Linked DNA regions of Homo sapiens: regions 2 and 3 are each reported to be linked to region 1. Evidence: microRNA targets listed by miRTarBase, many of them from high-throughput screens and not tested one by one. Region 1 holds a microRNA gene; each other region holds the end of a gene's coding sequence.
Evidence for each region. Region 1 holds the annotated microRNA hsa-miR-548ap-5p (AAAAGUAAUUGCGGUCUUU, at 4,405-4,423, opposite strand). A microRNA usually pairs through its seed, bases 2 to 8, with sites in the 3' UTR of a target mRNA and lowers its output. Matches are read on the target gene's strand: a 7mer-m8 pairs with bases 2 to 8, a 7mer-A1 pairs with bases 2 to 7 and ends in A, and an 8mer does both.

Region 2: miRTarBase lists TRA2B as a target of hsa-miR-548ap-5p. Seed matches in the 3' UTR shown: 7mer-m8 at 6,814-6,820 and 7mer-A1 at 5,995-6,001.
Region 3: miRTarBase lists PTCHD1 as a target of hsa-miR-548ap-5p. Seed matches in the 3' UTR shown: 7mer-m8 at 3,781-3,787 and 7mer-m8 at 3,282-3,288.

The regions. Positions count from the first base shown.
Region 1 is chr15:85,819,733-85,830,077 of GRCh38, reverse strand. It overlaps MIR548AP (microRNA 548ap), which reads right to left and starts at 4,443; the gene lies at 4,348-4,443. It also overlaps the pseudogene RNU6-231P.
Region 2 is chr3:185,910,511-185,920,855 of GRCh38, forward strand. TRA2B (transformer 2 beta homolog) reads right to left here. Exons shown (of 9, transcript NM_004593.3): 7 at 8,927-8,986; 8 at 7,855-7,928; 9 at 4,048-7,215. The coding sequence ends at 7,205. Among named protein-coding and RNA genes, the nearest start is that of TRA2B, 22 kb to the right of the region's middle.
Region 3 is chrX:23,390,791-23,400,761 of GRCh38, reverse strand. PTCHD1 (patched domain containing 1) reads right to left here. Exons shown (of 3, transcript NM_173495.3): 3 at 1-8,231. The coding sequence ends at 6,577. Among named protein-coding and RNA genes, the nearest start is that of PTCHD1, 61 kb to the right of the region's middle.

The DNA of each region.
Region 1 (10,345 bases):
GTCAGGCTGGTCTCAAACTCCTGACCTCAAGTGATCCGCCTGCCTCAGCCTCCCAAAGTGCTGGGATTACAGGCATCAGCCACCACTCCCAACCATGCCCACATCATTTGCTGCTGTGATGATGTCATGAGATGACAAACAGAAACATCTCCTTCCTCCTTCCTCAGTGGTGGTAACTCTCCAGGGTGGGGTGAGAGGACTAGGACAGACTCCCCACCGTCCCCACAAGTGACTGCCTCTGCCTCAGGCCAGATGACCCTGACTCAACCCTGCAAGTTGCAGGAAAGCTGAGCCTAGTCTCTCTCTCCAAGAACCTGGTCCCAAAGAGAAATAGTTCCTGCTGCCAGGGTTCCATGGCTTTCCACAGGTGACCTGTAAGGTCAACTATCTTGAGCCGATAGTATGAGCCGCCATACTATATGGTGGCTCATTTAGAGCCTGTAGCAGCTGGATGGAGACTGCCCACAAAGAACAGGTCAATTTGGTCCATCTTTGCCTTTAGTAGTTGCTTAACAGATGATTTTTGTGGACTTAAACCAACCACCCTGATCGGAACCACACCTTTGTTCCCTTTTCCTAGATGAAAAAAAATGGGATTCTTTGCTATGGCACCTACATGGAGGCCACCTGAGGGGCTCTGGCCAGGAATCCAGGTGTTGAGTCCTTCAGAGTTGTTACCTGGGAGCCACAACCATGAAGCATGTCTGTCCTTTTACAGGTCTCTTAAAACCACCTTCCAAACAGCCACTTCCAAAGTCATACAGCCATTAGGAGAGCTGACTGCACTGATTTTTACCCTTTGTGCTACTGATGTCAGAGGCACAGTAAGCAGATTAGAACAGGGGCGAGATGCTACCTTCTGGCACTTCCTGCCAAAATTTGCCTACAGCACATGGATGGCTGTTTAGAGGTAAGCTAAAAAATCTGGTGGAAAGTGCCTGGAGTCATTTGGGATTTTGAAAACATAAGTCGGCCATGTGTCACTGACACTGCTGGTTGCCTACTTAACATGCGTTTCTCACCCACCCTCCTTTCCTCTTTCGATTCAGAACAGCATCTGCCCTCCTGTGCTCAGCTTTGTGTTTCACAAGGGGTTGATCACAGCCCCAGCCCAAGGGCTGAATCCTCATAGGTCCAAGCCAATCATGGGTTCCCAAACCCTTTGTTGGTAATTGGTTTAGATAAGGGTATGTGACATTGTGACATAGATTTCTTTTTTCTTTTTTTTTTTTTTTTTTTTTGAGACGGAGTCTTGCTCTGTCGCCCAGGCTGGAGTGCAGTGGCACAATCTTGGCTCACTGCAACCTCTGCCTCCCAGGTTCAAGCAATTCTCCTGCCTCAGCCTCCCGAGTAGCTGAGATTACAGGTGCCCATCACCACACCCGCCTAATTTTTGTATTTTTAGTAGAGATGGGGTTTCACCATATCGATCAGGCTAGTCTTGAACTCCTGACCTCGTGATCCGCCCGCCTCGGCCTCCCAAAGTGCTGGCATTACAGGCATGAGCCACTGCACCCGGCCTAATTTTCTGTCATTATAAGCCACCCAGTTTGTGGTAATTTGTTACAGCAGCCCCAGGAAACAAAAATACCCTCTGTCTCCAGCCTCTACCCTCTTTGTTGTGTTGGCTTCTCTTTTTCTTCTGGCTATGGACCAACCCCTGTACTCCCTAAACCACAAAGCTGCCAACAGCTTGCATATTTGACACCTGTCAATCAAGCTTCCAGAAAGAAAAACAGTACCCTCTGTTTTCCAAATCCAGTTCTCCATGAAATAACTTTGATTGGCCTAGCTTGACTTGCAAGCTAAATTTGGTCCAATCAACTGTGCCCAGTGGCAGACTGGCATTGAACCAAGATGGCAACTCCTAAAGTAGCCATATGGATGGGAACAGAAGATACAGGGAAATTTCTAGAGTAACAAGTGTCCGCTCCAGTTATCTTTAAATAGTTACTCCATAAACACTGGCTTCCCTGGACCATGTTAATCTTTTATATTTTCAGGTATATCTATCGATAAACAGTGAGGCAAAGATAAAGAAAAAATATGGATCTTAAAAAGCCAGATATCTCAGCTGATCAGTGAAAGTCTTTGAAAAGGATGTAATGGACACCAGTACTCTTAGAAGTAATAATGGCATAATTTATAAAGTAAATAATTTGATTGTCCCTACTCCAGCTGTCTGCGTGGAAAAGTGAATTGAGGGAATCCAGCCCCGTGCAAAAGGGCTAACAGGAGCAGCCAAATAGGGCCAGGTGCGGCAGCTTACGCCTGTAATCCCAGCACTTTGGGAGGCTGAGATGGGCAAATTACTTGAGGTCAGGAGTTCTAGACCAGCCTAGCCAACATGGTGAAAACCCATCTCTACTAAAAATACAAAAATTAGCTGGGCATGGTGGTGGGTGCCTGTAATCCCAGCTACTCGGGAGGCTGAGGCAGGAGAATCTCTCAAACCCAGGAGGCAGAGGGTGCAGTGAGCCGAGATTGCACCACTGCACTCCAGCCTGGGTATCAAAATGAGACTCTGTCTCAAAAAAAAAAAAAAAAAAAAAAAACACTCTGATAAAGAGCTGAATAGATACAAATAAATAACCCAAATATACTCTTGTTTGTCTTAGAGACAGTAAGCTAAATCTGATCAGAAATGACTGAAGCAAGTCCAGAGATGCCGACAGATTAGTACTTCTACACAGGCAGTTCTTGTGTGCTGAGGGATGAGATACTTGCAGCAACTTTGTGGCCATTCTCTTAGACCACTGAGTAATAGGCTGTGCTGATAACGACTCATAAAACCTTCAGACACAAATTTTGTAATTGCACCATTATTACAAATTGTATTGTCTGACATTCCAGGTTTCTTGTAAATAACTGATGTAAAGCCTCAATCATTAAAGGGGAGGTTTGAGATAGGATCAAAACTATCTTAGTTCTTTTTGAAAACGTCTCTTGCAGTCAAATTATTCCCCAGGAACGTTTCTGTACTATCAGCATGTTTTAAAAAAAAATCTAGATCACTTCTTTTTTTGAGAAAGGGTCTTGCTCTGTCATCCAGGCTGGAATGCAGTAGCGCAAACATGACTCACTGCAGCTTTGACCTCCCTGGGCTCAGGTGATCCCCCCACTTCAGCCTCTTGAGTAGCTGGGACTACAAGTACACACCACCTCGCCCGGCTAATTTTTCTATTTTTTGTAGAGATGGAGTTTTGCCTTGTCCTGAGCTCAAGGAATCAACCACCTCATCCTCCCAAAGTGCTGGGATTACAGGTGTGAGCCACTGCACCTGGCCATAAGTTCCCTCAGGGGTTTTTCTCAAGTTGCCTACAATAATCATAAATACAGCCTTTTCAGTGGCAGACTTATTCTATGGTCCATGATGGTTTACTGAAAACATAGGTTCCTTCCTGTCAATAACTTTCCATTATACTGTTATAATATAGCCAAGATAATATGGTAAAAATATGTTGACATGATAAATTTTTCCAATAAAATGCATCCTTTGCATGCAGACAATTCATACTTATTAGTAAATAAATTTCACTCTTTGGGCAGTTTCTGTCTAGGTCACCCCTTCAATACCAAGTTTAAGGCACAAGCTGATCTAGCATCACACAGGCAATAAACAAAAAACTATATTGTATCTTCTCTTCAACAGAGAATGAGGTAAGGCTCCCAGGATCCGCATGTCCTGTAAAGCTGACAAGGAGCATGTAGTGTGAGGGCACTTAGTGGGCAGTAGTCATTGAGCTCTTCAAGGATTCCCCAAGAGAACACAGGAGTTGGGTTGGAAGGGAAGACTCCCACAATTCCTAAAACAGTGCTGTAGTTCAAGGATAGTTTTATTCTTAGAAGAGTCCCTAGAAAGTCAAATGATAGCTTGTCGGAAGGATTTAAGGAACTAATAATCCACATGAAGTGCTTAGCACAGCACCCGATGTGTGATAAGCATTCAGTATATGTTAGCTAGTCTTGTGATTTGAAGTGGCGGTAGGATTTCTTAACATCCATGATAACTGTTGGGGCTTCCATCTTGGTATCTGTGCAGCTGCATTCTGTGAGTGACAGTGTTCTTGGGTGGAAGCAGCTGGTACCTAATGGCCATCTGGCACTCTGTGGCCAAGCACAACTCCAGCCCTATAGGGTGGAGCGATTACATCAATAAATAGTGGCTGCATTCACAAAATCCATGGGCCCTGTCTGGGAAGCCAAAAACCTGCTTGACAGCCTGTGCTCTTGTTACAGTAGGTAGCTAGCCAGCCATGAGCAGGGCAGGAGAGGAACCCTCCCAACCACCAGGAATGTCAGGCAACCATCAGGTGATGGTAAAGCATTTGTTACACTGTCTCCCTAAATTAATCTTTAGGTCAGTAAAAAGTAATTGTGGTTTTTGTTATTGGTTTTAATGACAAAGACCGCAATTACTTTTGCACCAACCTAGGAATTGGTCACAGCTGGTGCCAGGGAAAGGCAGTCTCCTAGTAGAGAGAAACACCTGAAACTAGCAATCAGCAGCTTCCCAGTGAGATCTCTAGAGTTGGGTGAGTGGGCTCAAGTATGTACACTAAGGGGCAAAATGACGGAGTTTAACCAGTATATGACCTTCCTCCAGGAACACTGGTAAGGGGAGAATGCCTCAAGTGAGCATGCACACAACTCCAGTTAAATACACTGCACATGTGGCCCCTCCCAAGTGCTGGCAGGCCACTGTGCACCCAGACAGCCCATCCCAAGGAAGAATCAAGAAGAAGAGATGCAGAGCCCGGAAGCATGCCATTGTATAAAACCCCAAGTCAAAGGTCAAGCAGTGCACTTGACTCTCTCAAGTCTCCCGCTTGGCCCTCTTCCAAGTGTACTTTACTTCATTTCGTTCCTGCTGTAAAGCTTTTTAATAAACTTTCACTCCTGCTCTAAAACTTGCCTCTGTCTGTCACTCTGCCTTATGCCCTTTGGTTGAATTCTTTCTTCTGAGGAGGCAAGAATTGAGCTTGTTGCAAACCCATAATGATTTGCCACTGCTATCACTGTCCAGGGCCAAGGAATATCCCTTTCCAGTAGGTGATAACATGGCTCAGTAATGGCTGCCATTTACAAAAATGCAAAAGAGGCCTGGCGCGGTGGCTCACTCCTGTAATCCCAGCGCTTTGGGAGGCCGGGGCAGGTGGATCACCTGAGGTTGGGAGTTTGAGATCAGCCTGACCAACATGGAGAAATCCCGTCTCTACTAAAAATACAAAATTAGCCTGGCATGGTGGCACATGCCTGTAATCCCAACTGCTCAGGAGGCTGAGGCAGGAGAATCACTTTAACCCAGGAGGCAGGGGTTGTGGTGAGCCAAGATCGCGCCATTGCACTCCAGCCTGGGCAAAAAGAGCAAAACTCTGTCTCCAAAAAAAAAAAAAAAAAAAAAAAAGCAAAAGAAAATGAGTAGCTCTGGCAGCAAGGCTATGGCACTTCCTTTATTTTTCAGTATTTTTTAGTAGATTGAACAGATACTATGCCTGCTTGATTTCAAGTGCTATGGATCCCTGAATGGTAGTCATGGTAGCAGAAGTGAAAATAGGAAGTTCCACGATATATATATTTTTTAATTTCCCACTTCTATGTCTGATTTATCTTCATAAAACAGGACATTCTGATTTTGTTCTGGGTAGTCTTTCTCTGTTGACCTCATCATTGAAACACAGTGCTACCCCCTTGGACTCCTAGAAGAGAGGTTGTCATCAAAGCATTAGGAAGCTTTAGGAACCCCAGGAATTCTAGAAAGCATCTGAAGGTCAGCGATTGGACATCTGTTGATAAACTTGGGCGGAGTCAACTATTGCAAATAATTGCCCCCTCCCAGAAAATATTAGAGGGTGCTCACTAGCCCCAGGCATCTGCCATGGGTGCTGCCTTCTCACACAGTGTCTGTACATGTCCCCAGTTACACTAACATCTTTAAGCTCAAAGAATCCCAGCTCCTCCAGGGACTGCAGTGGGAACCTTGAATAGATGACCAACCTCCATCAGCCTGTTTCTTCATCTGCAAAGTGGTAAAATAGCTTTATTCCACACGGTTGTTTTAAGGTAGAAAAATACAATATATAATAATTATATATAATATAGTTTTTATTGTATAAAAATACAACATGCAATGTAAATAAGTATGTATAATATTATATATATAATAATATAATTGAGTATTTAGCACAGCACTAGCCAGATAATAAATGCCCAATAAGTATATGGAAGAAATAGAGAAGACAACTACCAGTGCAATTCTTTTTTTTTTTTTTTTTTTGGGACAGAGTCTCGCTCTGTCACCCAGGCTAGAGTGCAGTGGCGTGATCTCGGCTCACTGCAACCTCCACCTCCCAGGTTCAAGCGATTCTCCTGCCTCAGCCTCCCGAGTAGCTGAGATGACAGGCACACACCATCACGCCCGGCTAATTTTTGTATTTTTAGTAGAGACGGGATTTTGCCATGTTGGCCAGGCTGGTTTCAAACTCCTGACCTCCAGTGATCCACCCACCTCAACCTCCCAAAGTGCTGGGATTACAGGTGGGAGCCACCATGCCGGGCCTACCAATGCAATTCTTAAAAACTGCTGAGTATGTTTTACTGATCTAAGAACACTTCGTTACGCTAGGTCGAGGATTTATAATTTGAGGTTTATGGTGCCTTAGAGAAACTTACTTAAATTTTATGCGAAATGATATATTTATGGGCGTTTCTCTAGGGAGAAGGCGCAGAGTTTTCACCAGATTCTTAGATTCTCTGCTCTGGATAAGGTTAGGAACCACCATGGTTTCTATTTCTTAAGCCCACACCTCACTCCCATTAGGATGTCTCCTATCCAAAAAACAAAAAAAAAGGCCAGGTGCAGTGGCTCATGCCTGTAATCTCAGTACTTTGGAAGGCCAAGGCAGGTGGATCACCTGAGGTCAGGAGTTCGAGACCAGCCTGGCCAACATGGCAAGACCCCCATATCTACGAAAAATACAAAAATTAGCCAGGAGTGGTGGCTGGCACCTGTAATTCCAGCTACTCAGGGGGCTGAGGCAGGAGAATTGTTTCAACCTGGGAGGCGGAGGTTGCAGAGAGCCAAGATTGTGCCATGGCACTCCAGCCTGGACCACAAGAATGAAACTCCTTTTCAAAAAAAATAATAATAATAACAGAAAATAACAGAGATTGGAACATTATTGTATCAGGCTGCTCAGACTTTCATAATAAAAAAAAAGCTCCAGACTGCAGGTCAGGCATGGTGGCTCATGCCTGTAATCTCAGAGCTTTGGGAGGCCAAGGCAGGCTGATTATTTGAGCCCAGGAGTTCTAGACCAGCCTGGGCACCATAGTAAAATCCTGTCTCTATGAAAAATACAAAAAATTAGCTGGGCATAGCGGTGCGCGCCTATAGTCCCAGCTACTCAGGAGGCTGAAATGGAAGGATAGTGGAGTCCAGGAGGTAAATGTTGCAGTGAACTGAGATTGCACCACTGCACTCCAGCCTGAACAATTGAGCGAGAGCCTGTCAAAAAAAAAAAAAGAAAAAACCAAAAACCTCCAGACTGGGTAGCTTAAACAACACAAATACATTTTCTCACAGTTCTGGAGGCTAGATGTCCAAGATCAAGTTTCTGGCTGATTCGGTATCTGGTCAGCTGATTCAGTATCTCCTCCTGGCTCGCAAATGGCTGCCTCTTGCTCTGTCCCTACAAAGCCTTAGTGCCTTCGCATGGAGAGAAAAGGGCTAGCTCTTTGGTGCTCTTCTTTTATTATTATTATTATTATTATTATTATTATTATTATTTTTTGAGACAGAGCCTCGCTGTCTCCCAGACTGGAATGCAGTAGTAGTGTGATCTCAGCTCATATCAACCTCTGCCCCCACGGGTTCAAGCGATTCTCCTGCCTCAGCCTCCCAAAGATCACAGGCATGAGCCATGGCTCCTGGACCCCATGCTTTTACAAATGAGGAAACTGAGTCGTAGAGAGGGTTAAGGAACTTCCTGAATAGAAATAAAAAGTAGGAATGGGAATCAAACCTAGGCATTTGGGATCCAGTGTGGTGGCACGCACGTGCCAGTAATCCCAACTACTGGGGAGGCTGAGGCATGTTTCCACGACAACAGGCTATCTCACAAAAATGTAAGTGTCTCATGAGTCTCTAAGTCATCTCGGTTTAGGGACCAAGCCAATTGTCTCTGTAATGCTTCAGTTTTAATATATGCACTGTCAAAGTGAGCATGTATAAAAATGTACATTGTCAGCTATGATAATTAAATCCTTGACTCATCTGAACACTCCGCTATAACAGCAAGCATCACGTCATTTTGTAACTGTCTCTTAGCTGGTCCACCTCCTCTACCTCCTCCACTAAACCGCGCATTCCCTGACAACAGGGTTGACTTGTTCCCGTCTTAACCCCTTGTCTGATACAAGGTATTATGACCCTGGATATATACAAGTTAGATCATTTTGCAAGTGAGACTTGTACCATTTATAAGGACAAATACTCATTTTATATTTTAGTCTTACAAGGAAAAAGGCATCTGAGAAAATGTAGGGCATATGCAAGGGCCCCCACAAATTGAGCATAACACAATTCTGCAGATGTCTTGCTTTGTTATTGTTGTTTGGGGTTGTGTTTTTTGTTTTTATTTTTTGCTTGATAATAAGATTAAAGCCTCATATATATGTCAGAAAGTAGGGTGGCTGAATCTAATATCTTAGCATGTCCCATATTTTAAGCATAGTAGCTGCTCTATTTTCCAAATTAACTTGTTGATCATTTAAGTATCAAGAAGCCATGTGGTCCAGTCAGAGAAACATGCATCTCACAACTAAAAGTTGTGACTTTTAGTCACAGGCAACTTCAGGCCAGGCGCAGGGGCTCACACCTATAATATCAGCACTTTGGGAGGCCAAGGCAGGCAGATCACTGGAGGCCCAGAGTTCGAGACCAGCCTGGCCAAGACAGGGAAACCCCAGCTCTACCAAAAATACAAAAATTAGCTGGGAGTGGTGGCGCACGCCTATAAGTCCCAGCTACTGGGGAGGCTGAGGCAGGAGATTCGCTTGAACCTGAGAGGCAGAGGTTGCAGTGAGCCGAGATCGTGCCACTGCACTCCAGCCTGGGCAAAAAGAAGAAGAAAAGCAAGGGAAGGAAAAGAAAAGAAAAAACAGAAAAAAAGAAAAGAAAAGAAAAAGCAACTTCAAAATAATTCAGATCCTTCCCTTGTGTTTCTCAGAAGCCATGAAGTAGGGCCAAATAAATGTTCCAGAGCAGCCCTTATTAGAAAGCCCTTTCCTTTTCTAACCTCATACTCTAGCTGCTTCAGTGCCTCCTTCTACACATTTTTGGTGCTCATCTGGATCAAAATGTTGGAATAACACCACAAATTTATCTTCTCCCCAATCTCAAACTCATAAAATGCTACTAAATTAATTTAAAAGGCATAAACCTTCAATGGTAGAAGGAATAGCAGGCAGATCACACACAAGAGATTTCAGCAAAGCTCTGCAAGATGAGGAGCACCTGGAGAAGAGTAGCTACTGGGTGGGCTGAAGAAGTCCCAGCCAAGAGTAAGGTGCTCAGCGTAACACCAGGGAAGGATGTCAGCAAGTCTCGCACAAACTTAGAGAGACTTGGGATTCAGAAATGCTTGGTGGGAGTGAAATGCGAGCTGAAATAGAAAATTATGGAAGATGTCCATATGGAACAAGTGGACTCACCACCAACGTTCAAATCCACCCACTTCACATGCCCCTGTGGAAACACCAACACCTGGGAGCAATATATATTCCCTCCAGACGAACAATCACACAACCTCTTTTTCAAGAAACTGAATGTTCCAGAGGAAAGAATTCTGTGTTCTAGCCTTTAGGGGCCCAGGATAATGGACAGCAGCCCTCCGGGTCACCCTGACGCAGAGACTTCCATGGGAGAAGCCCCACCTACAAAATGCAAAAGAGTGCAATCCCTAAGAAGGGGGATTTAGCAATATGGAGCAAAATTACATATGCATTTGTTCTCTGACCAGCAAGCTCACGTCCACAAATCTATGCAAAAGATACATTGACAAACTATGAAAAAGACATATATACAACAGTATTCATTGCAACTGTATTTGCAATAGCGAAAGACTGGAACCAAATGTCCATAGGAATGGATTGACTAAACATTCAACCCAAAACAATGGAGAGCTCTGTAACTATAAAAAGAAACAAGGAAGATGCCTGTGAACTTCTAGGAGTTGATCTTCATGAAGTATTGTTCAGGGGCAGGGAAAGCCAAGCATGTTCCCTTTTGTTTAAGAAGGGAGAAATATAAATATAAAAACATATATTTATCTTTTGAAATAAA
Region 2 (10,345 bases), not on the chromosome of region 1:
GCCAGTGCATTTCTTACTTTTCTCTCACTCCCTCTGCCTTCATCCTAGGCCAGAGCCTGCCCCTGGGCTGGGCTCCCTATAGACCCTTTTCTAAATTATCGTTCTACTCCATTCATCTATTCCTTCATTCATCAGAAGAGCATCTGTGGAGCACTTAGTGCCAGACACTGCGCTAGACACTAGATGCACCCGTAACACAGACATGGTCCAGCTGGGGAGGCAGGTAATTGACAGGCAACTACAGTGTCTTGGGGTGAGTGTGATGATGGAGGAAGCCCTTAGCTGGGACCATAATCCAGATGGAGAGGCGTGTTAGGGGGGGGCCTACACACTCCTACTGGTTTCATTGTCCTAAACACTTTTATCCTGTTTCAACTAAAATTGGCTTTCTCTTACTTTTGTTCCTTTGGGTTCAAACTTTGTAGCCTGAGATTCTAAGGCCTTTCTGGTCAACCCAGGCCCATTCCCAGGACTCTCTAGCAGAAGAGGTAGTAGTAACAATGATAGTAATAATAGCACATCTTCATTAAGCTTATTTATCTTAAATAACAGGCCCTCTTCTAAGTACTTTTCTTAATGTTAACTCTTCACAACATTCTCTATGAAGGAGGTACAGGTACTATAATTAGCACCACTGACAGAAGGGAGTCATGAGTGCTAAAAGGCAGAATCTGGGTTCAAATCCAGGTGGCATGGCTTCCAGGCTGGCATGTGATGATGACACCATTGTGTATCAGTGTAACCTGGCCGTGTGGACCTCAGACTCTAAATCATACATCCTAAGTTCTCCCCAAAGACCTTTTTACTCCTGGTCCCCTCTCCCCTGAGAATGCCCTTCTCTTTCTTATCAAACCCTATAGAAGGCTTTATTTTCACTTTCTTGATGTTATCGTTTGCAGCACAAAGCTTTTTAAATTTTAATTAAGTATAATTTAGCAATATTTTTTATTAGTGTTTTCTGGTTATTGTTTAACCTAATTCCCTTTTCCAATTGTTTGTTTAGATTCCCGTCTTTGTTCTTGAAGATTTTAAAACCTAGTGATCCTTGATTATCTGTTCATATTTAAGAAAGAAACAGATTGTGGCCGGGCGCAGTGGCTCACGCCTGTAATCCCAGCACGTTGGGAGGCTGAGGCAGGTGGATCGCGAGGTCAGATTGAGACCATCCTGGCTAACACGGTGAAAACCCGTCTCTACTAAAAATACAAAAAATTAGCCGGGCATGGTGGTGGGCGCCTGTAGTTCCAGCTACTTGGGAGGCTGAGGGTGAATAGCAGAAACTCGGGGGGCGCAGGTTGCAGTGAGCCGAGATCACGCCATTGCACTCCAGCCTGGGAGACAGAGCGAGACTCCGTCTCAAAAAAATAAAAAATAAAAAAAACAGATTGTGAATGGAAGCCCGACGTGCAAGGGAAAGCTCATCAGCTGATGGGCTTCACTGGAGGGCAGAGCTTCCCAACCTTTTGTGCATCAAGGCATACACAGAAAATGACAATAGCGGTGAGGTACACTGGGGGTAAACTGGTGGTGATTTGGGTACCCATAATGGACTTAGTAAAAAACTCCTGCAGGGCTGAGCCCGATGGCTCACGACTGTAACCCCAGCACTTTGGGAGGCTGAGGTGGCATCAGCTGAGGTCAGGAGTTCGAGACCAGCCTGGCCAACATGGAGAAACCCCCATCTCTACTAAAAATACAAAATTAGCCAGGCGTTGTGGCTCATGCCTGTAATCCCAGCTACCTGGGAAGCTAAGGCAGGAGAATTGCTTGAATCCGGGATGCAGAGGTTGCAGTGAGCTGAGATCATGCCACTCTCTCTAGCTGGGGAAACAGAGTGAGACTCCATCTCAAAAAAAAAGAACACAAAAAACACAAAAAACCCAAAACAACAAAACCCCTGCAGTTTCTTTACATAAAATAATTGAGGAAAATGTAATAAAATATAAGCTATTAGTAACAATATTAAAACATTTAATTAAAATAAATTCTTTGAAATCTTCCACAAACACTTTTCAAAAATTTTAGTGAGAAACTTGAGCTTGATTCCACTAATTTAACAGGTTTGATGGTTAAGCTAGTTACATGTAATTCCTAAGTATTTTTAAAAACAATCTCTTCGGCCGGGCCCAGTGGCTCACGGCTGTAATCCCAGCACTTTGGGAGGCTGAGGCAGGCAGATCCCGAGGTCAGGAGTTCAAGAACAGCCGGGCCAACATGGCGAAAACCTGCCTCTATTAAAAACACAAAATTTAGCTCAGCGTGGTGGCGGGCACCTGTAATCCCAGCTTCTCAGGAGGCTGAGGCAGGAGAATCACTTGAACCCGGGAGACAGGTTGCAGCGAGCTGAGATCATGTCACTGCACTCCAGCCAGGGTAACAGAGCAAGATTCCGTCTCAAAAAAAAAAAAAAAATAGCTGGACCTGTAGTTCCCTATTTTGGAGACTAAAATGGAAGGATCACTTGAGCCCACAAGTTTAAGCCTACAGTTTAGCTGTGATCACACCACCGTACTCCAGCCTGGGGGACAGAGTGAGATCCTGTCTCAAAACAAAATCAATAAAAGCAGTATGTATAGTTGCTATCAACTATATAGAAATGGTTTTCTCCAGGTGAACTCTGGTACAGAAGCCAAGTCACATGGTACAATACAGGTATGGATATAAGGTCCCATAAAGGAATGACTAGAAACCAAATCCACAGAATGTTATTTTCAGTGAGAACAAATTACTGTCCCCCCTCACAAGGAAACTTAGTATTGCAGTTATTCCCATCAAAGTATATTTCACATTGGAGCTCAGTTGTGGTAATGTTTAAACTTGAGTGGATACTCATGTTGAAGATATGTTCATTGCCTTTGCTGTTACCAATCTATCCTGCTGCTCCAACCCTTTAACCACGAAGATGATTAGATATTGATCTGTCCAGAAGATACCTGTAAACTCATGCCTATTTCTCCAGACGAAGACAATGAGCCAAGTTTTTCTTCTCGAGGTCTTACAGTCCTTGTTCTCCTGTAATCCTCTATACCCAGCTGAGCACATCTTTTGACTGGGAGCTGCCTTAACAGCCCGTTGGTAAGAAGCCTTCCCAATAACGGGTAACACAAAACTTTTATATTATGTGTATCCGTTAAAATAAAACCTATTTAATACATCAAAGTGGCTCACAATCTTCATCTCCATCATCTTCATGTTGAGTAGGCTGAGGGGGTGGGGGTGCTGGTCTTGCTGCCTCAGGGGTGGCAGAGGCAGAAAATTCCTGTAAGGAGACCCACACAGTTCAAACCCATGATGTTGGTCAACTGTTATTTTTGGTAAGTTTGGGTATTTATCTTTCTACAACAGTTCAATAGTTACAGGTGTCTTTGGCAAAAAGACTATTATTTCTGTGAACCTAGTATCTAGTTAACTACAGCTTGAAATTCCTGCCAGATCCCTTCACACACATTTTATCTTGCTCCTTTATTAACCCTGCCAACTTCACCTTCTAAGGGCTAACAGTGATTACCTGGTCTTGGCTGGGAATGGGTGGCTCACGCCTGTAACCTCAGCACTTTGGGAGGCCGAGGTGGGTGAATCACCCGAGGTCAGTAGTTCGAGACCAGCCTGACCAACACGGTCAAACCCTGTCTCTACTAAAAATACAAAAATTAGCCGGGCGTGGTGGTGCACGTCTGTAATCTCAGCTACTTGGGAGGCCGAGGCAGGAGAACCGCTTGAACCTGGGAAGTGGAGGATGCAGTGAGCTGAGATCGTGCCACTGTACTCCAACCTGGGCAACAGGAGTGAAACTGTCTCAAAAAACCACACACACACACACACACACACACACACCAACGAACCCCCCCCCCCACCAAAAAACAGTGATTAACTGGTCTCTTAGTACTAACGTGGGATCCCATTTCAATTCATCTCCTCTTGCCAGGCCAGTAAAGCTCTTGAAATAGTTTTAACTTCATCAACTGATTACTCATGGGGAGAAGGGATTATTTTGGGTCTTGTCTTGCTAGTAAGGGACAGAGTGAGTGGAATAGAACCAATCCAGTATTCTTGTCACTTTTAAGTCTTTACATTATATATTAAAGATTACACATAATAATCCTTTACACTATATACAATAATCCTTTACATTACTGTAGTAGCATTCTGGCTTTTTGATGACATTTGGCATAAGCTAGCATTAAGTCCAATCCTACAAGAGCCAATCAAAATCCACTGAGATGGCATGCTGAAGGAATATTGGAGGCGTGTCCACTGCTAATAAATCCAGCCTAATCCATCCTCAAAATTTCCATATAATTTACAGAAATTTTGATAATGCAAACCAAATCTTTTTATTTCTTCTCGGTGAAACTTCTAATTCTCAATTTCTCCTCCTGGGCCTTGCAGAATTGGAATCCTAGTCAATGGTGTAAGAGGGCTAAGAGCTATTAGTTTTATCTTAAGGCATATATTCCTTATGTAGGGGCAACAATGTAAACATTGCAGACCTTGAGCATTCTCTAACATGTAGTTAGATTTCCATAAGGAAATGTGCAAGCTAGATCCCTCTCAAGCGCACTTCACAATAGGATTCCTGCTATGAAAATCTGCTGTTGCTGATCTGACAGGCGGCGGAGCTCAGGCAATCCATGGCCAGGAGATCGGAAACCCCTGCTCCCAGGTCTACAAATCTTTTGACACAGCCTTATTTCCACTTGCTGGGACCCTGTTGATTTCCTGAGAAGTTTCACAAAAGCCTAGTATAAAACTATTTAACTTAGCAATCTTCCAAATGAACTTTACATTTGGTTTTAGTAGTCTCAGCCCTACAGCTATAAGAAATGGATTGTTTGTATTGGCATATAAAAGCCTCCAAGTCCCTTTGCCTTGAGGCAGTAACTTTAAGACTCAAATTTATCCTTTCCCATGGCTTTTGTCTGATTCAGCTGCCCATGGCAGCAGTTACCTAGGGGTTACCTACGGGTAACTGCTGCCTCCCTTTCATGAAACTGGCGACTAGCATTACAGCACATCAAAAGACTACCACTTTGTCTCACTACTTCTCAGTCTATCTCAACTTGGTAAAATTCCAAATTTTCCTCAGTCTTTTGCCTGTTAACACTCTTTGTAGCCATGTCAAATGGCTAAAATTCTTTCAAATCTAAAAGCCAGAAAACAACTCAAACTAGCCTAAAAAAGGAAACTTTCAATCAGCAGGATAAAGGATGGCTACACAACTAAAGGGCTAAAACTCAGGCTTTAGGATAGAAACCGAGGGTTATGTTCGAGATTATCAGGAGTGTGAACTCGCAAGCCATCAGTTAACTGATGGGGAGAGGTTTGGTTGGGGAGAAAATGGTGGAGAATGTAGTTACTTCAGGAAAGGATGCCTGTATATACTACCACGATAAAACCAGGTTTCTCAGCCTTTAATGTATCCATCCATAACACAACCCCCTCTGGGACCACACCCTAAAACTCAACTTTATATATAAATACTACAAATTCTTGTTTCAAAACTCATTGAGAACAATTTGAAATAACCCATCAGGCATATACTAAGTTGTTTCCACATGCTTATCAGAAACAAACCTAAGGGTAGTTCTCTAAGCATATTAATTTACCACAAGTTGGCAAACACTGAAAACACCCTGGACAGTAAGTTTTACAAATTAAGACCTGCCAATACTGCCTATGCTCCATTACTGGTATTTTCCATCACCCAGGTACCCAGATTTGAGACATCATGATCAAGAGAACTGTGGACTAAGATCACCTAGGTTCAATTCAGATCGTGGCATTGCCACTTAAACAGCTATTTGAACTAAGGTAAGTTACTCTACATCATTTCATTGCTAAAGATTATATGTAAAGTTCTTCCCAAAGTACCTGAAACATACTAATACCTAGATGCGATAAAGGTTAGCAAGGCAACAAAATAACCCACCTGTAGCAACATCCCTACAATTGGTCATGAAAATTACTTAAATGCAAAATAATAAGAACATGTATTAAAGTACCCGCAGTCTAGTTATTTACTGTAACTCCATCCCCAAATGGAGATCACTCTAATACCTAGTTATGCACTCTGAATTTTCCAGGAATACAGAAATTCATCCCCCCCTCAACCCAGCCCAAAATAGCAAAGATACACCTCAGCCCAAGGAACACACTGCCCTAACGATTAAACTACAGAAGAACTCTAATTATAATAGAACAAGAACACTTCTTTGTGAACAGCTGCACCAACATTTTTCTTTTCATTTGCGTTTATTTAAACACAGTTCTCAAAACATTTGAGTGAAATTGGGCCTCCTTTGGTAAGCAAAGGACCTGAAAATAATATTTAAAAAATGAACAGGCAAAGTCTTCAGTTCATCCATGACAGGTATAGTGTTCCCTTATCATGTACTTTGAAGCACCCGGTTTTTTCATATAGTCTAAAAGCTAGAAGAACAAGAGTGTATTTGTGGTGGAATGTATTGTCACTTGCTGATAACTAGTTGAAATACCATTATCCCCTTGTAACACCTTTAAGAAACAGCCTTTTAAGGCATACACTGTGTAACTCTTCGTATTTCCTGCTATACATATTACAGATTACATAAAAGCCGACAAATCCACATTGATATAAGCATTAAGCACTGGCTGTATTTTAAGATTTTTAGTTCTAATACTAGCAGTACAGAGTTACAGAGCATAATTTTAAACACTTAGTTGCAGGTATATAAGTATGGTATGTTTCATGGACTGGAGGAAAACGGGCATTTGTCTTTAAATTTACTACTGACAATCTGAATAGTTCTGCTAAGCATTGATATGTTAGAAAGAAAAGTAAAAATCAAACTGTTTATTGTTGCTTTTTGCCATTTGGTAGCATTTTACACAGGCTTCGATCTTCAGAATACCCTGGATTCAGTAGAAAAACCTTTTAAATGAAGTTTTGTACAATAGAAACTTCTCAGCAGTCAAAATTTAGACTGTAAAAAAATACATGCAAAACATACTTTTCTGAAAACACTTAACTTGGAACAAAGCACCAAACTACACAAATGCAGAATGAAAACAGCATTTCAACTCCACCAAAAGTAGTCATCGTAAAAGGTGTAAAAGTCACCTAACTTCACTAGGCACTGTTCACTTTTTAAACAAGAGACAATAAAAAATATTGCCCACAAACAATATCCCAGCTCTAGGGCAGGTTTCAGAAAGTCTTCATGCTTTAATAGCGACCTGGGAAGAAAAGAATGAACATGCTTTAATATTAAGTGAACTAATTATCAAGTATACTTTAATGCCGAGAATTTCAGAATATTCTGCCATTAAGAAATTCCTATGTGCCAGAACCCCACCACCCCCAAATAGAGAAAGACTTCCATGTAAGTATTACACCAGAAATGAGATAGCAATCTTAAATAACAGAAATTGCTGGGAAGTATATAACTCAATCTGAGAACTAAAGGGCTAAGTAATCCATGTTTCTGTGCTGTCCAAAAATTTTTAAGGACTCTTGAAAAGCTACTAAATGGTGGAAATACATTATTTACTGTTTCAATTAGAAACAACAGGAGTCTCTGAGCCTACTCTGGGTAAATGGTGGAAATACATTATTTACTATTTCAGTTAGAAACAACAGGAGTCTCCGAGCCTACTCTGGCTCAGGAGGCTGTCCAATTTTTCCTTCTTAAAAAATAATAGGATTCTAAGGGTTGTTTCCACAAACTTTCTTGAACCAAAAAATGTTCAGGATGTGTGGAGAATCATTAGGTATGAAACTACCTGAAACCAATCCATTATCTGATAAAGGGAATACACTGTCATCAGAGCAAGCCATACTACAATATAAACAATCATATTAAGATAAAAACTTACGAGGTGAGTATGATCGAGATCTGGAACGTGATCTGTATCCTCCACGACTATAGTAAGGAGAAGGTGACCGCCTTCTATAAACAAATGTCAAGATTGTCTAAGTCTCAATAGATCACAATTAGACCAAACATATAAATTTATGACTATATATACTGCCCTTTCATCAGTTCCCCAAAAAAGGAAAGCTGCATGAACCTTCAAGGTCTGTTTAAATCTTGAGAATGAAGCACATTATCAGGCCCAAGTGTCAAATAAGCACTCTTAATAACTTTAAGGTCAAATAATCCTTGCTATATTTTAATCTACTTACTTTTTAAATTTTGTGAACTATGTTAAGAGAGTTTTGTAAAAGAAAATTCCTGGCTGGGTGCGGTGGCTCAACGCCTATAATCCCAGCACTTTGGGAGGCCAAGGCAGGAGGATCACTTGAGGCCAGGAGTTTGACCAGCCTGACCAACATGGTGAAAACCTGTCTCTACTAAAAAAAAAAAATTAGCTCTGTGCGGTGGTGCATGCTTGTAATCCCAGCTACTCGGGATGCAGAGACTGCAGTGAGCTCAAATTGCTCCACTGTACTCCAGCCTAGGCAACAGAGCAACACTCTGTCTCCAAAAATTAAAAATAAAAATGAGAAAATTCCCATACCATTAAATAATCCCAACAGCACCCTCTTGAACACCCAAAACTAATTTCACAAGTGCTTCAGGATTTAGCTTTGTGTTAAAAAGGCTGGCTTGAATGTTCTTGTGCTATTTGAGATGCTTACTTTTAAAAAGCAAGGAAAATGTAATACAAGAACATAATGACAAAAAAAATGAGTTATCAGTGACTAACATCACTGTACCTCATCACGGTATAAAATGGTATCACTAAATAATCTATTGCAAAACCAATTAATTTTTATAAATATACAAAGACTTTATACATTTAGTTTCCGTTAGAATATTTTCATGAGCTTCAAACAGTCTGATTTTGGGTATTCCACTTATAATTTACCAAAACATTACTAGGCAAACATCTTTATGTGAAGCTTTATACTGTTGTACAGATGCTAAGTCCTCTCCTGGCATACCTATAAATCTGATCCCTGTCTTGGGCAGCTCTCCATCCTCCTCCTCCTCCACCTCCTCCTCTGTGAAGACAGAAAGGCAACACAACACGCATTCAGTTTGTAAGTTTTAAAAAATTATGTCATTCATTTAGTAAAATAAAAACTTTCATAGAGCATGAATGAGATGTTTCTTGCAGGTCAAGTGATTTGCCACCCTTTTTAGAAACTGGCATAGGGTTCTCTCTGGTGGCTGAAATAAGTAGTATTAGAACACAGAACATTCCTAAGTAAATGCTCTTAAAAAAAAAAATCAAACTAAGAAAAAAATCTCAGCCCCAACAAATTTGTACCTTTAGTACCATTCAATAGAGTGATGCTTTAAATAAAAAAAGGGTTTTCATGGGTGATAAAATGCTGAACAATACACTTACAGACTCACTTTCAGACAATGACTGACAACTGTTAACTTCTTAAACATTGCCAAATAATGCACAAAATAGACATCCATATACCTCAATACCATTATCAATGACAACTGTGGTCAATACTTACTAACTACATTATTTGACTTGTCAAATTACACATTTTGACAAGGGAGGACCAAAATGTCACAATTTTACTTCATTTTTATCTTTGGAAGTATTCTCAAAGATATCTTTATTTTTAAACTATGATTGACATTTCCCTACCCAAACCCCGAAATACCAAATTTTTGGCAAAAATAAAAAGCCACATACCCTTGTCATACTAAATTAACATCTTTAAAATTATTCTCTGGACTCTTTCAAGGCATCCATTTTACCTGCCCTCAGTGTACGATGCATGCATTAAGAGATTACAAGAAACTGCCTGAAAAGTGTTGGCTTTCCAAAATGGCTTATGAAATTTGCTTTTATAAGCCATTATAAATTTGCTTTTAAAAGGCTAAGACAGAGGCTATAATTTTTTCTTTTAAGGTGGGGTCTTGCTCTGGGGGAGGAGACTCAGGTGGGAGCGTACTTGGCTCACTGCAGCTTCAACCTCCCCGGCTTCCTGCCTCATTTTTTGTGGAGGTTCCCTATGCTGCTCAGGCTGGTCTCAAATTCCCGGGCTCAAGCAATTCCCCTGCCTCAGCCTATAATTTTGCTTTCACTATGTATTCATTTATTTATTTTTTTTTTTGAGTCTCTCGCTCTGTTGCCTACAGTGGAGTGCAGTGGTGCAATCTAAATTCACTGCAACCTCTGCCTGCCGGGTTCAAGCAATTCACCTGCCAGTAGCTGGGACTACAGGCGTGCACCACCACAACCGGCTAAATTTTTATTTCTGGTAGAGACGGGGTTCACCATGTTGGCCAGGCTGGATCTCAGGTGATCTGCCTGCCTTGGCCTCCTGAAGTGTTGGGATTACAGGCGTGAGCTACTGCGCCTGGCCTCATTCAATGTTTAAAAATAAAACACA
Region 3 (9,971 bases), not on the chromosome of region 1:
CTGGGCAGAAGATGATGGAAGGGCCACTGATCAGCCATTGGTGTGTCCTTTGTGCTTCATGCAAGGCCAAGCAGTGATTCACCCAGCCCTTCCCATAGGCCAACCGAGGCGGCTTCCGTTGTGCCTGAAGTTATATCAGCAGCAGCAGAGCCAACAAGTACAGTATAGTCATTTATTTTCCAACTTCCCCCAGCAACCTCTATTTTATCTAGCTTCTGACTTGGAGTCAAGAGAACTGGGCTTCTGCATATTTGTGTATAAAACACACTTGTCCTTTATTTTTTTGAGACGAAGTCTCACTCTGTTGCCAGTCTGGAGGGCAGTGGTGAAATCTCGGCTCACTGCAACTTCTACCTCCCGGGTTCAAGGGATTCTCCTGCCTCCTGAGTAGCTGGGACTACAGGCACGTGCCACCACGCCCAGCTAATTTTTTTGTATTTTTTAGTAGAGGCGGGGTTTCACCATGCTGGCCAGGATGGTCTCAATCTCTTAACCTCGTGATCTGCCCGCCTCCGCCTCCCAAAGTGCTGGGATTACAGGCTTGAGCCACTGTGCCCGGCCACACCTGTCCTTAAATGCACCCATCTGTCCATGGCCACGGTTGCTTCTTTGCCCACTAAAAATATTAACGAGATGAATGAGACTTATTCTCTCCATACTTGTTTTGAGAGTAGGGTACTGCACGTGTGTGAAAGCATGCCTGGTGTAGACATCTCAGAGTAGGGCTCATTTGGGAGCAGGCCTTCTAAGGATGTGGTATGCAGTTGTAAACAGCATATCACTGTATATAACCTGGAAATAGGCTGCTCTTCCTGGTTCTTTGACAGGGCACACTTCTATATGTTGGCTTTGTTGGCTGCTGCCTTTATGTGTGTATGTGTGTGTGGGATGGTTACTGAAAATTTGAGGCTATATATAATTTGTTGCAACAGTGAGAATGTGGTAGCAACCTGGTGTTCCTCTTGCCAACAAGAGCACAGTACAGAGGGCTCCTTTCCTGGTCCTGCTGTGGAGGGCATATTTAGCTGCTGCTAGAACATGAATTGGCACTGAAAATACATTTGCAGAATAAAGAAATGAATGAATGAAAGAATGAATGAAGAATAAATGAATAGAAGTAGGCACTTGGCTTGGGATGAAGAAACCAATATTTTGAAGCATTTTTGGATCCTTAGAGAAAAGATAGTTCAAAAGTTCTTGATTGCTCATTAGCCAAAATGAGGACACCAGGATCACACTCCCAATGAGGTCTGTATTAATTTAGGACAGTGGTTCTTCACCCTTTTTCGGTCATAGACCTCTTTTGGAATCTGAGCCCTCAGTTTAGGAAAATGCACATGTTGAACATATACACACATTTTTGCATGTAACTTAATTGTAGGAAACTCAGAGACCCCTCCCATGAACTCATTTGGCCCCCAGGTTAAGACCCCAATAATTTAGATGAATAGAATTTGGCAGTAAAGTGGCAAAATGGAGAAAGAATTGAGGCTAAAAACTAGATTTCAATTATAGTCTCCTGTTTCTAATTAGCTCTGTGAATATAATTTCATTACTCGAGGGTTCAGTTTTCTCATGTGAAAAACAAAGGGGTAGGCTTAATTCTAACCAAAGATTCATCTGGTGTCAGCATTCTGGAAGGAGAAGCTGCTGGCACATTCCACAAGAACATCACTTCTTCCACCAAGCTTTCTCTGCTGGTTTTCTCCTTGGTACACATCGCTTTTTTTTGTACTTTGAAAAGAAGGCTTTTTTCCTCACCAGGTAGGCTCCTAATCAGGTGGTACTAATTTTAATCTAACTCAAAAATCTGCACAGAGGCCATAGCTCTCCGGTCGCCTCCCTTCTTCTTCCTTCCACGGTGCTCTCATAGATATCAAAGAGGACTTCAAACAAATCAGCTGGGCAGCAGCGGGGCGGGTGAGAGGCAAGCTGGGGGGGACATCCTGGCACTGCCTATTCAGGTGAACGGATTATAGCTCATCCACTTTCCTCTTTGCTTTCTCCTGGACTGGCATGAAACAGAAATAACAGTTGTAACCACCACAGGGAGGAACTCTGCAGTGTGTTGGCTGCAGCCATTCTTAGTTCTTTGCCAGCGAATCCACTAACTTAATATTTTTCTTTGTATTGCAGATTTACTATTCTTTTAAAAAACGGGAACTTTATGTCTCTAAATACCTGGTGCTTTTTACACAAAATTAAAAGCAAATTACCTCAAGGGAATGTTTACATTCCCTCAGACAAGCCAGCCACAGTTATTCAGTAATCAGTGGTGTCCCTTCCCCATCCCCAAAAGCAAGTGCCTGTATCTGTTTTTTTCAAAGATCATAGTATGATGCCAACATCCAGGACTTGCAGCCCCTTTACAGTGGCCCCACTATGTGGTGATCAGCTTCATTTTGATGTCCTAAAATGACTGGTAATTAACTACCTTCTGTGGCAACTCATTGTATTTGTAGCCCTAATTCTCAGGCTCAAATCTACTTCTCAGTAGCTTTACATCCCGAGCCCTAATGCTACTGTGCGAGATTGCTGAATTACAAATAATGTCTTGAGTCTCTTTTCTTTGCCAGGCCTTTCCAAGAGTGCTTTCCAAATGTCATCTCTCATCTCATTCAATCCCCACAATATACCTGCAATGTCACTCAAAGGTAGACTCTACAAGAGCAGATTTTAAAAAATCTGATTTGTTGACTGTTGTGTCCCCAGCCTCTCGAACAGTATCTGGGCGATATTTGGCACTCGATAAGTATTTGCTGAATTTAAAGACATTTACTGATATTATCCCCATTTTACAGATGAGAAAACAGAGTCACAGAGGTCAAACACTACTATAAGCTACAGGGGTACTTTAATAGGATCCAAAAGAATAAAGCCATTATGAGGAAGATAACATTTGTGTCCAAGAGGTTCTGCCTCTTGCCACACCCCCAAGACAGCTGCCCATTCCACCTTTTCTTGTGATGGACACAGCTGAGCTCTGTCATTGACACTGGAGAAAAGTGGTATCATGGTCCCATAATGCCACTTACGATTGGGTGATGGTTAGTTAGAATTAAAGGGTCAAGGGTTACCAAGGTCCTCATTTGGAGCGGTATATTGCATACATAAGCGTGGCCATGGAGGATGGCATCTGATTATCACACTTCTGACTGAAAACTGAGGGAGTAAAAGGCAGAAGGTAGGAAAGGCAGAAGCAAACACAAGCAAACACAAACCACAAACCAAATTAAAGCAAAACAAACATCAAAGAAACTAAAAACTCCAAAACCCAAAACAAAGTAAAACTTATGAGCTGGAACAATGGAGAAACATTTCACGAGGGTTTGTCTTCCTTTTTCTCTGAAACAAACTGTACTTCTTTTAACCTGAGGAGCCCTGATGCTGCTTGTTGAAATGTTGCTGTAGGCTAAACAATAATGCCCTATTTCAAGTATCATTTTCTTTCTTGCGAACACCACATTCCCTGTGAATTGACATCTTCTTCTTCCACTAAATGAGAGAATATCACCCTTACCTTGACTTTTAAAAATTTTCCTTATGAATGGCCAAAAAAGTCCCAGTATCACAGTTTTTTAGTTGACCAGGAGCAATATTTTTGATGAATCGAATATTTTCTTTGGTAAACAAACAACAAACACCAACTAAAAACCAACCAAGTAAGTTTCTTTGGTAAAGTGGACGTTAATGTCTTGGTTGGAATTAATTGAAAGAAAAAAAACACAGCTTCTTCAAGTGTTTGCAGGGATCAATTTTTCCGTCTTTATAGCAATTCAAAAAGTAAAACTTGATGAAGTAAAGACTTAGATTTTATGGGGATGTGATTCTGAGTTACTTCTAAAGTGTCTTCTCCATAGCGGGGCTAAACCAATGCAGCAGAGCAATAATCAATAATCAGTATTAACAAATAAATAATAATTATCTAACAATAAATAATAAATCTTGGCATGCATAATCTCCCAATAGAAAAATTCATTTCACAGTCAGAATTCCATAAGCCTTCATTTCAAGTGCTGAAAAGAGAAGTTGACAAGTTTGAAAATGCCCTTCATTAAAAAATACAATATCCCAGGGTATACAGAGACTCAATCAAGTTGGAAAACTATTATCTGTCATAAAACAGAGTTCCACAGGAAGTCATTCTGGTTGACCAAATTGAATGATTAAATTCTCAACAAAATCCATTTAATTGGTGTGTGTGTTGTGTCAGGTTTTGTGGAGCTGCTTTAAGCCGAGGTGCTCCACGTGGCTGACACTAAATCAATGACTGATTTAGAACACACTGTTCAGAAAATGATTTAGCAACACATGATTTAACAGTAAAACCAATCCCCTCTTCAGTTGTGTTTTATGAATAATAGCCTAGTTGCGGGCCCCTTGGAGAGAGAATTGATCGAAGATCTATTATGCAAACTTGCCCTTTTGTCAGGACTGTACTTGCCCTCAGATTAAAGCTTATTATCTTCTAGTTGAGTGTATAACACGTTGGTATGATCACTTAGTGTGTCTGCAGAGAAGACTGAACGACTGTGTAATGCATTAGCTACAATCCCCTGCACATGTATTTAGAACTGTATGGACAACAGTACGTGAAATAGAAAGCACAGGTTTGCACTTGGTGTGGTTACATCTGAATTATTTGGCCTTTTGGAAAGACAATGGCAAACCTAAACCTCAAACATTTTAATTCCAGACACTAAAAAAATGTCTGCCCTGTGGCCAACGAAGTCCTATGTTCCTACTTTGGAAATGCATTTTGAGAGGAGTAATAGCCATCTTATGAGAATACTGAAAATTGGACTGCCCTGTCTTAGGTATGCTGAAATGATGAAAACCCTTTAGTGGTGTGACCTGAGTGAGTCACTTTATTCTCCTAGGTCTCAGTTTCCTCCTCTGCAGAAGATAGGTAAGCTGCACAGTATGTCTGCTAAGGTTCAGAAAGGTAAGATGCTTTTGGGAAATGCTTACCACTACAGATGTCTAAGGAAGCTACATCTCTAAAAGGGAAAAATACTGTAGATATTTGCTTCAAATGTAACCAGGTTTTAGCTTCATTTTTATAAATTTAAAGAAATGCAGGGGCCTGGGCAACGTATACAGCCTTTTTAGATCTAAACCATTTCTGTTTAGATCTATGAACCATTCTTCTGTAGATACTGGAAGTCAAGAGTATAAATATCTAGGCTTGTTAATTTACAGAAGGGCCTTGCTATGATGACGCAGAAGGACATCAAAAAAGGTGTGGGGGGGACCAGCAAGGTGAGGTGCAGCCACTTTAGCAAGAGAATTGGACTGCCATCATTGATAGATTTGTATCAGTGAATACTTTTTCCAGTGTTTTCCATCTATCTCCCTTTTGGCCCTTTATCTCCCTGCACTTTTACAAAGCTTCTCAGCGTCAGGACTTAGACTTACCAAAGATCTTCTTCCCCTCTCTGTCTCTGAGCAGGTGTGTTTCACAGCAAAGGCAGACTGGCACTACAAGTTGGAAGCAACAGCAAATAACTATTTCAGTGTTCATTTTTTTTCCCCGCAGTTTTGTGTGGGCAGATGTTTCTGGATATCCATGCAAAAAATGCATGTAGGGCCAATGCAAACAGCTGTACCAGCTGGCTATTTTGTTGTTGTTGTTAAAATGGAGACACTATATCTGGGTCCAAGTAGACACCTGCTTTTGCTCCATCATGCCAGGTATTTGGGTTTGGCCCTGTGGTTTTGGGTCCCTGGATCCTCCTGCCAAGAGCTGTAACTAATAAAGCAGACCCATTTGGTGACAAGTGACAAGCTATTCCAAAGTAGAATCACACCAATTCTGCAGTGCTGGAGCTGTCATTGGTTTTAAGGTGTTTTAAGCAAACCAAACTATACAAATGTTAAAGGCATACCAATGGCGGAATATGATAATTTCATTCTAGACAACGAAACTGCTTCACCTGGGTAAATTTAGCGGTGAATCAATTTTAGTCCATGAGTGATGGCCACTCTACCACATATCAGTTTCCAAGGCTCTGGCTTGCTTTTGCTGGTCAGAACTTTCACAAGTATCTCCTTCAGTGTTAGGGAGCTAGGTGAGACAGCTAAAACCTCAAACCACAGACCATGACTGGAGCTACTGCTCTACAGAAGTTCTGGAAGCCTTATTGTTTGAACAATGCTTAAAGGTGTTTCTGCCTTGGCAGTTGACCTTTCAATCAGTGGGTTTTGTCACAATGCCAGCAACATCTGCAGTTTGGATAAGGCAGGATCCTGCTTGTTAATAAGCTTTCTTCTACTTGATCTTAGTTTAAGAGACTATAGGTCTCCCAGGGTGTGTGTGTGTGTGTGTGTGTGTGTGTGTGTGTGTGTGTGTCTATGTGTGTGTGAATTCTCATAACAACTCCTTTGTTTTAAAGACTGAAAATATGCCAGGCCCATTTCTCCCCACTGTCCTTTCCTTTTTTTTTTTTTTTTTTTTTTGGCAATGCCTGTTTCCTATCTTTAAAAAAGGGAAGAACTTTGAATTTAATTGTTTCATTAACATAATCTCTTTGGTCTTGATAAGACCTAAGGTGAAAATATGCCAAGCAGACATTATCACACTGTTGTAATTTGGTCAACCACACGGGTACTATCGATATCTACCATTTCTACACACTCAATTTCCTCCCGGTTCTCAGGATTTTTCTTCTCTTTCCTTTTTTTCTTAGAGGGTGGCAGGAAAGTCAGTATCACAGGTAAAATGGCAAAGCAGTGAAAGAAGGTGACAAATGCTATTAAAAACAAGCACCTGAACAGTGTACAGGTCAGATTTGAAGGCACAGCTGCAAGAGGAATCAGACCAACAATATAGCAGAGGTAACTCTGTAAAATAGCTACCCCATGCACTTCCAGGGCATTTTTTACCCATTTAGTTCTTGTGAAATCCTTGCCCAGAACAAATGTGGATAACATTGGAGCACAATTGTCAATTGTGTAATTAATTCCATAAATTAAGCATAGCACAGAAATGCAGTCCAGTTCTACTTTCCATAATGTCATGAAACCTATCACTCCAAACTCCACGGACACAACTGTGAGAGTGATCCAGACGTTAATCAGTGAATCTGCCACCAGGAATGCCGAGAAGAAGAGCAGGAACAAAGCACTGATGCAGGAGTTGTGCAGGGGGGCTCCCAGAGAGGAGGCATATCGATCCATGTATACAAAGGACGGATTGAAGACGATGAACTTCACCTTGGAGGTGACAGAAAGTCTCCTCAGGGTTTCCAAGAGATCATAGAGTTCTTCTCTGTTTGTTTCCATGGTCTTGGCCACCAAAAACATTCTGGAGGCCACTACATCGACCTCATCATTGTATTTTTTAGAGAAGATGATGTCCTCTTGAAAATGTGAAAATTGAGGGGCTTTCAGAAAGGAATTCCTCAACATGTCTGTGAAATTTTTCTTAGGCAAGCCAGTGGATACATTGAGTTTCCGAAGGTAATTTAAATAGCTCTCAAACCAGGATATCCGCACAAACCCCTTGGTGTATTCTAGAACATCTTCTTGGACACTAGTGTTCCAGTATTCTATAGACTCATATATGTAAAACCCAATCACAGGACTGTAGTTGCTGAAGTACTTTTGCTGGGCAGTAGTGTACTCAATGGTTTGTGTCGCGGTTGCTACAATGTTACTAAGGTCTGACCCTTCACTGACCTGCAGATAGCCCATTAAGGCAAAGGAAATATAAATAAGGTAAAAGAGAACTACAAAAGGCTTGACATAGGTGTTGGTTATCCAGTCACAGTAATAGCGTTTGAGGAAACATACCAATAGGTGACTCTCGTAAGTGTTCGCTTCCTCGCCTTCAGCTGTGTCCTCACTGAATCTGGCCGTCAGGAGAAACCTGTACCATGCCGGCTTCTCCTGCAATGCCTCAGGCTTTGGGACTTTTCTACAGAAGATACTATGCTGGTAATTGTTTTCTATGTAGCCAGTGAACACTAGGCTGGAACCATAAAACGAGAGTACATAGAGGTAGTTGAAGAAGATTGCAATACAGGAATTGCAGCAGAAAATCCTGGCTGCCTCAATGTTCGTGAAAGGGCTGGCCCCTATGCCAAAGGTGACCAGGTACATGGCAGTGGTGAGAGAAAAGGAGAGCATGGAGTCTGCATAGACTGCTGCAGTTCTCTCTTTAACATGTTGGTCTTCTCTAGTTTTCCTCCAGGAGGATAACATTTCAAAAGTCCCATATAATCCATGACCTAAGAGGGCAGAAAAAGACCAGAGCAGAAGTTTAAAGAACTAATCTCTTAAGAGGGAAATCAACTTGATTATGAGGGACTACTGGGTCAAAGGAAACGTAATCAACCCTAGTGGTGACGGGTATGTAAATGCCAATGATTTCTCCTATGCGGAGATAGACCCATGTTTTTATGAATCGTAAATGTTAATGGATAACGAAAGGGCAGCTAGAGAAGCAAAGATCTTCATATTCCCTCTGGCTTAAGAAAGTTCTCTTCTTTGGAGTGTTCCACCAAACAAACAGCACTTAGATGAACTTTTGCCTATAGAAAGCTGAGTAGAGCCAGTCATGGTGGCTCATGCCTGTAATCCTAGCAACTTGGGAGACTGAGGAAGGAAGATGACTTAAGACCAGGAGTTTGATACCAGCCTGGGCAATGTAGCGAGACCTCATCTCTCAAAAAAAAAAAAAAAAAGAAAGAAAGAAAGAAAAAAGAAAGAAAAAAAAAGAAAGAAAATGAAACAACTTAGCCAGGAATAGTGGCTCATATCTGTAGTCCCAGCTACTTGGGAGGCTAAGGCAGGTGGATCTCTTGAGCCTCGGAGTTGGAGGCTGCAGTGAGCCATGATTGTGCCACTGCACTCCAGCCTGGGCAACAGGGCAAGACCCTGACTCTAAAAAGAATAAAAGCTGATTAGACTTGTGCATATGTCTCTTGGGGATTTTTCCCATTAATAGCTTAGAGTTATTGGTGCAGTTTGGTTGGTGGAACGCTCCAGAGAAGAGAAGATGTCTGGACACTCATCATTTTGCTTTCCGTCCCCACAAGTCTGGCTAGGGGTCAGTGCAGAGGAAGATAGTGGGCAGAGGGTTCTGAGTTAATGTCCTGTCACCTCATTTAAAATTTGCCAACTAGAGGGTTTTAGTGATAAAGAGGCAGTGTATTTCATTTGAGTCTTGACAGGAAACTAAATCACAGCCCCCTCTGTTTTCCCTCCCCAAATATCAGGGCAGGAAGCAATAAATCTTAGAAAGAGGGAAGCAAAATAAGTAGGAGTGAAGAAGTTTCAGTGAAGAAAATACAGAAAAAATAAGATAAATATGAACTCTCCTGGTTATTGATAAAAATTAGGATTCAGGTTGAAGGTTTATGACTTGCAATTTGTCTTCAGGGATCTGTTTGACCAATTTGGTTATTCATACATGACTTATCAAGCAGTGATATAATACGTCAGCAGCGACTCTGCTAGCTTCTCCGCGCTATTTGATAGTGGCATCTGTGGGAAAGAGCCAGATCAGTAACCCCGCTGCGTAACTGCTTAGTGCCTTCGCCTCCTGGTTTAGTATTTCAGCAATACTGAAATAGCAGAGGTACAGTAAATGCTCATGTTCTAAACTCCATTCTGCTGCCTGGAACCTGATCTAGCATGACTTCTACCACCTCTCGTAGTTGGAGCCAGACATTTCCCTACTTCGAGTCCCTGTGTTTCCAGGCCACTGCAACATTGGAAGGCTCACCAAAGTGACCCGTTGTGGATTTCGATAACTCCTGTCTTGGCAATGGGGATCAGCAGATCTAATTTCCTGCTTCCATCGCCTTGGCATATTCAATCCCATTATTGAGGATAATAAAATCTTTACCCTGTGGTACAATAGTCTTGTATTTAAAAAGGAATTTAAAATCTCCAGCCAAGCATAATGCTGAATAAAGTGAGTCACTGTTATCTTGTGTGTACAATAGCTAGGTGTACATCTTCCC